Linked DNA regions of Homo sapiens. The protein of the gene in region 1 interacts with the protein of each later gene in a pairwise test. Each region holds a gene or a part of one and is shown in the gene's direction. Other genes may lie near its edges.

What was found. The genes of interacting proteins can lie anywhere in the genome.
Region 2: the proteins of ZBTB20 (region 1) and TMEM132D interact in a two-hybrid assay, tested with the Homo sapiens proteins (one large-scale study listed by BioGRID).

The regions. Positions count from the first base shown.
Region 1 is NC_000003.12:115,140,789-115,144,288, reverse strand, and holds part of ZBTB20 (zinc finger and BTB domain-containing protein 20), read left to right. Parts: intron 1-3,500. UniProt on the Homo sapiens protein: May be a transcription factor that may be involved in hematopoiesis, oncogenesis, and immune responses. Plays a role in postnatal myogenesis, may be involved in the regulation of satellite cells self-renewal.
Region 2 is NC_000012.12:129,078,526-129,082,025, reverse strand, and holds part of TMEM132D (transmembrane protein 132D precursor), read left to right. Parts: coding exon 1-267; intron 268-3,300; coding exon 3,301-3,492; intron 3,493-3,500. UniProt on the Homo sapiens protein: Regulate neuronals morphology via inhibition of the WAVE regulatory complex (WCR), a complex that controls F-actin cytoskeletal dynamics.

The DNA.
Region 1 (3,500 bases):
TGAATAATTAGGTTGTTTTAGAAGGGCAATAAAAGCTACAGCTAAGTTCCTGCGATCTATAATTTATAAAATAATTACATATTATTTTGAATAACTTCACAGAATCAGTGGCAAGCAGAGACTTCTTCAAAAACATTTGGAATACGGAAGTAGAGATTGATGGGCTTTGCTTTAGTCTCTGAAATAATCATATTTTTCTGAAATGGATGGTTAAATTTATCATATTGTTCTAGACACTTGGAGTGTAATAATGAACAAGAGAGAAAATTGCCTGCCCTTGTGGAGCTTACATTCTAATGTCACACACACTTTGTGCATTTTAGATTGTTAGGGGAGGAGATTTTTTAATGAAACTTTAAAACCTAGCTGCTTTCTTGTCTTAGGAACTACAGTTTGAAAGAGCCTACAGAAGTTTGAGAAGGAGGAAGGTGTTTACCAGTTGGCAGTGATAGGAAAGAAAGATCTTAGTTTATTTCTTATTTGTACCTTTTGTTATTGTCATGAAACTTTCTCCATATATTTCAGTTGGTAATTTTAACAGATAGGGATTTTTTTCATGATTTTAATAATGTCTTTGAAATTAATAAAACGTTGCTTTATATTAAAAAAATCTTGTGTCTTGAAAGTTACTATAAAATTCCTACATAGTATTATCCCGTTAGCAAAGTATGGTAAAACAAAAGCTAGAATATCTGTTAATTTTTGGTTGGGATTTGTTTTTAGGAACATATCTGAAAAATCAAGTACCTAAATCTTTTTCAGTTCTGGGTTTCTTTTTCGTTTTTTGAGATGGGAATCTCCTTTTATTGCCCAGGCTGTACTTTAACTCCTGGGCTCAAGTGATCCGCCCTCCTGCCTCAGCCTCCTAGTAGCTGGGACTAAGGTGCATGCCACCATGCCTAGTTTCAGTTGTGATTTTATCAAGAGAAGGTGAAAATTTATTGTAATTAGTTTATAGGCGACATTAAAGAGGAGAGACCTGCAAAAAATGCTTTGTTATTTAAACCATTTTTTCAAAAGCATTTGATTGGCACTTTTCTGCTTTAATAGACTTATTTGTAATGCAAGAGGAACATTACAGAAGATTTTAGCAATACTTTAATCATTTAGTCTGTAGGTGTAAAAATCCTGGGTTTCTAATAGAAGGAAAGTTGGTACCTGGTTAAATGAGTATATGATTTAATGCTGAGATTGTGACTTCAAGTAGTGGGTGTCTCACCTTTCCAAAACCTAGTTCATAGTTCTCAAATAACAGTTTTTCCTTTTTAATTTTTTTTCCCATCTGTCATGGTGAGTCTTACTTTGTTAGCCAAATACAAGTTTAGTTCTTAAGTGGAATAACTTTTTTTAATACAATCCTCCCTCCTCCAGCCCTCCCATCCTGTGCCGTGGAGGGTTTGTCACGCTTATACCTACATTAGATCTCTATTTATGCTAATTTGGAACATAATCAGCCTCTTCCAGGAAGGGTACATATTAATGCACTTTAGAGCAGTTTGTGATTGCCTCTGGCTATTTGTATACGGACTTGCCAGCATCTGAAAACTATAAATAGGAAGATTTAGGAGGAAACAGACTTTATAACTAATGGAATACATTGTTTCAGTTGAATTTTTTTTTTTTTTTTTTGATGGAGTCTTGCTCTGTCGCCAGGCTGGAGTGTAGTGGCACAATCTTGGCCCGCTGCAGCCTCCCCTCCCAGATTCAAGCAATTCTCCTGCCTCAGTCTCCTGAGTAGCTGGGACTACAGGCGCGCACAGCCACGTCCTACTAATTTTTTTGTTATTTTTAGTAGAGACAGGGTTTCACCATGTTGGCCACGATGGTCTTGATCTCCTGACCTCGTGATCTGCCTGCCTTGGCCTCCCAAAGAGCTAGGATTACAGGTGTGAGCCACCGTGCCCAGCCTCAGTTGAATTTTTTTTAAAGAGCAAAATGGAAGAATGGCTAATTGAATGTTAAAAAGTAAGACCATTTCCTGTTTTCTGGTAAGGATGGTTGATCGATGTGTGTTTGCATGTGTGTGTGAGTATATATTTATAAATGAGCAGTTTTTGAATAAAGACATATCAATACTGGATAAATAATTCCAGTCCTGCCTGTGGTCCTTGACATGGAGTGTATTCAGGGTTCCCTGGTGATTTTGTTTAAGCCACTTTGTTACCAAAACTTTCCTATGGATAGCATAGAAACACAAGCTAATTAAATTTCTATAAATTTTATATTTTTGGGATGAAGTGTTATTTTGGAAGTATTTTTTTAAGCATGATTACCAGCCAACCTGTGAAATGAATGAAATCTGAAGTGCAGAGTTCATGGAACCTTATATCCACCTAAGATAGTTGAGTTTCAAGAAGGTATTTTTAACGGCAGAAGATGAAATCTTGACATCTATCAAGTTTTTATAGTAATAAAGTAAGCATGACTAAGTTTATTAATATTCATATTTGTAAGGTAAGTCTAAGCATGTGTACAGTGCATTTTAAGTCAAAATTTGGGGTGTTATTGGCTAGACACAGTCATTTCTTTGCCAGAGATACTAGGCTGTGTGAAGGCTAACCATCTGTCAAGTGATAGAGACAAAGAAAGGTTTTAATATACTAGTCTAAAATTTCCACAAACTTGTTTTGAATGGTATTGTCATTTTCTTTTGGCCTTCATACTCTGTGTTGAATATGCACTGGGTCAGTCACCCTACTTTGTTTTATGAACAAACTATTCAAGGTCCAGATGAGGTTATTGTCACAGCTGATGTGATCTAGAGGCAAGATAAAATATGTTTTGATTTTGCTTTCATATAATCAAAAACTCACAGTGGGCCACCCACTAGTAGTTACACAAATGGTTTCAAGTGTACTTGTTTTCACCCACCCATTCTGAATTTTGGGTGTCTTAATTATTTTGCTTTATGTATTCAAGCCTTGTATTTCAAACCCATTCCTGAGCTGTTTGGGGGAAGAAAAAGTAGCAACAGGAATCCAGATTGCCTGTTTTAGGTACAATATGGTGTGATGTGAAATTGAAACAGCAGATTGGTGAGAAACTTTAGTTTCAAACAAATATAAACTAGTTTGTTTAGTGAAGTCATACACAAAACAGTAGTCTCTATTGACAGGGCAATGTTTTTTTCAGTGATTCCCATATCATGAGGTCACTTTTGTTCTTTGGGCCAACAGTCTGTTTTCAAGGTGTCATATAAGAAAAGCACTAAATACTGCTGATTGTAATGATATACTTACATATGGCAGCACAAGAAATTATTTATAGCAGTGCTAATTATATCAATAAAAATAGCAATATTAATACTGTGTCAAAATCCATTCTTGACAGTATGAGGTAAACAGAACTATAGTCAAACAAAGCAGCCAGCCTGTCTTTACTGTCAGCTCACAGATATGCACTTTAAGAAAAATATACACACAGTTTAGAGAGTTGAGTGTACCAATTTAATCTCTTTTCAATTACTTTTGGCTTTTAAAAAGATGTTCTAATTCAACATA
Region 2 (3,500 bases), on another chromosome or scaffold:
GGGGACAGTGAAGAGGAGGAGGATGATGAGCGGAGGGGCCGCGGCTGCACCCTGCAGTACCAGCACGCCATGGTGCGGGTCCTGACGCAGTTTGTGGCTGAGGCGGCCGGCCCTGGGGGACACCTGGCCCACCTGCTGGGCTCAGACTGGCAAGTGGACATCACGGAGCTGATAAATGACTTCATGCAGGTGGAGGAGCCCAGGATCGCCAAGCTGCAAGGCGGACAGATCCTGATGGGGCAGGAGCTTGGGATGACCACCATTCAGGTAAAAAAAAAAAAAAAAATCCCCAAATCAAGATCTCTCTGTCTTCCCACCTCTGCTCTACCTAGAGGAGAAACCAGCTGTTTGTCATTGCTGGGAATGGTATCTATTTTTAGGATGGGTAAATTCAAAGAAATTGTGGAGTAAGCAATACAAGCGATTTTGGCTGGGTGTGGTGGTTCACGCTTATAATCCCAGCACTTTGGGAGGCCGAGGCGGGCAGGTCATGAGCTCAGTAGTTTGCGATTAGCCTGGGTAACATGGCGAAACCCCATCTCTACCAAAAATACAAAAAATTACCCGAGTGTGGTGGTGCATGCCTGTGGTCCCAGCTACTCGGGAGGCTGAGGTGCAAGGATCGCTCGGGCCTGGGAAGCAGAGGTTGCAGCGATCTGAGATCGTGCCACTACACTCCAACCTGGATGATGGAGCTAGACCCCATCTCAGACAAAACCACAATGCAAGCCATGTAATGATGTGATGAGAATCTCAAAATTCCTCACATATTACTTATAGGGGAGAAACTCTGGGCTGGCTCCCATGGTGGCTCACGCTTGAAACACATGATTTTGCCCAAGCCATGGTAGGCGTTACCATCTTGGTAAACAAGCTTTTGAGGTGAGCTTACCTGATCTGAATCACAGGCACGGCCAGCAACTTCCTGCTGAGCCACTTTCCGCCACTGAGCATGGTCACCTAAACCTTCCCACGGCTTCAGGATATTGTGGCCGCCCCTACCGAGTCACAGCCGCGGGCCTGATGAGAACCTGAACAACTCAGAAATGTGCTAAAGGACGAAGTGAAGTGATTGTGCCTCCATATGTCTCGTGGGCCCCTTCTGCTGGGGAGCGGGTGACGGAGAGGACCAGTGGCAACACTTGGGTTTTGAAACACTTTAACAAAACAGTGTTCTGGGAGGCTTGTAAGGGTTTGGTCATTTACCTCCCAGCTGAGAACAAAGCAAGAGATTGTTTTCTTTCTGTGTACATGTAAGGGGTGCAAGTGCAGCTTTGTTACCTGGACATATTGCGTGTCTGCCTTGTTAGTGTAGCCATCACCCAAATAGTGTACATTGTAGCCAAAGGAAGAGTGTATTACTCAGCAGCTGCCCCATCTGCAGGCAATGCGATTGTCTTATCAGGCAATCTGTGAGGTTTCTAAAACAGCTGTGCATGAGGAATCATTATAACTGAGACTAGATTGGATCGTGGAAGATTTAAAACATATCCATTCTGGAAAATTGGCTGGTATATCTAACACTTCATTTTATCCAAGGAGGAAAATAAATGGGTTTGGGCCGTAGACCAGGAGTCGCATGCTCTAATGATCTCTAAAGGCTGAGAAGCTACCATCAGTGAGGAGAGTAGGCTGGGTGTGTGCTGAAAGACAGACAGCAGCTGATTTTCCTCTGAGTGTTAGAGAGACAACAGGGAGTGGTGGTGCCTGTGGAAAAGGGGCAAGCTCTTACTCAGAGCCAAAAGCTGCCAAGAAGAAACGCAAGTCTACTGCAGCCATATGTTGCAATTTTCCAGAAAAGCTGGAAGTCTGTTTTTATATGCAATCTTCTGGCTCTCTAAATGATGGTCATTAATTCTACCTTAAAATATGATTTATGTCAGACAAAACATATCTGTCTCATAGATGAGAGCTTGCAACCTCCACAATTGACTAAGAAGTTGAAAGACCTGAATCCCTACCATAAATCTATAGGCTAAACTGATACTGATGCCCAGAAACTCACAGCGAGATGAGAATTTGGTATTAACATCTTCCCTTAAGTGATAATTTAAGTGCAAAGGGGAAAAGCCATACCGTTCTGAAACCAGGTGTCAGGGAAGAGGAAGTGGGCCAGCTTCCCACACATTAAACATGAACATTATTTTGGTGAGGCCTCTACTCCTGCGAGCCTTGGTTCTTTTCTCTTTTTTCTCACTGTGTCCTCCTGAGTCATAAATTCACTTGTCCACTTTCTTCTGGGGACACACCTCTCATGCTCGCCACCATTTAAATTGTCCCAATCGGACCAGAAAGTGAAGGTGGCATTCGGGTAGAAGTATGGAGCTTTGATTCCTGGTCTCAAAGGGTCCTGGGAAAACTGCTGTCTTGACCTACATCATAAATATCACCAAAAACTTGAAAAGAGAAAGAGGTCGAGAAAGCAGGAGAATGGAGGATGAAGCCCATCTCTTCTAGAAGGAAGGTTGTTATACGGGGCTGTGAGGAGTCTAAGACAGCTGTTTATCATTTGGGCGAAGGGTGAGAGGAGGAAGAAGTGATTCCACAGACGTTCCTCAAAAGCAGGATTTCCTGTTCAGGGTCTAAATTGCACATAAGCCTCATTTTCCAGGTCATTCCAGGTGTCCAGAGGAGAAATGAGGCTTTGGGTTGTGGGCATCAGGCGTAGACATTCAGAACCTACGTTTATCAGAATATGCCCAACGATATTCCTCATCAACAGGCATCATGCGCTGCGTTTCCCAAAGTGTACAGTGTGGCCTCCAGTGACACGCGTGATTGAGATGGACCAGCAGGATCCGCCTTCTAGTTGCACATTGGTTTTTATGTGCAAGAGCGAAAGCTATCAATATGTAACCAGTACACCCAACCCGTCATTCACTGGTGATAGGAAGGCTTTTGAAAAAAACAAATCATTTAAGTAAAATAAATAATTTTAAACAAAATACACACTGTGCTGTAGAAGAATCATAAAGCTAATAGTCGAATGAAAACGTCAGTTCCTCCTGTCCAGGATGGAGCATGGTGGGAAACGGAGCTGATGTGTGGGGTGTGGGGAGAGGGCCAAGCCCTACCTGCCCACTCCTTGACACCACCTTGCTTTATGCAAAAAATGCATTACATTTTCTCAAGCAATACATATGATTCAGAAGGTGGTGTGAGTGGGAAAGGCCTGTTCTCATTCATTCTGGCTCACATGTTGCCCTGCCGCTGCCTGCACACTGGCACTTCCTCCTGTGACTGGAGGCATTGCCTGGACCACAGAAAGCCTTTCCTTGTCATGTCGCTTCTGCCCTCCAGATCCTGTCTCCTCTGTCAGACACCATCCTCGCTGAAAAGACCATCACTGTGCTGGACGAGAAGGTGACCATCACAGACCTCGGGGTGCAGCTGGTGACAGGGCTGTCACTCTCCTTGCAGCTCAGCCCAGGAAGCAACAGGGCCATCTTTGCCACTGCAGTGGCTCAGGAACTTCTGCAGAGGCCAAAACAGGTATGGAG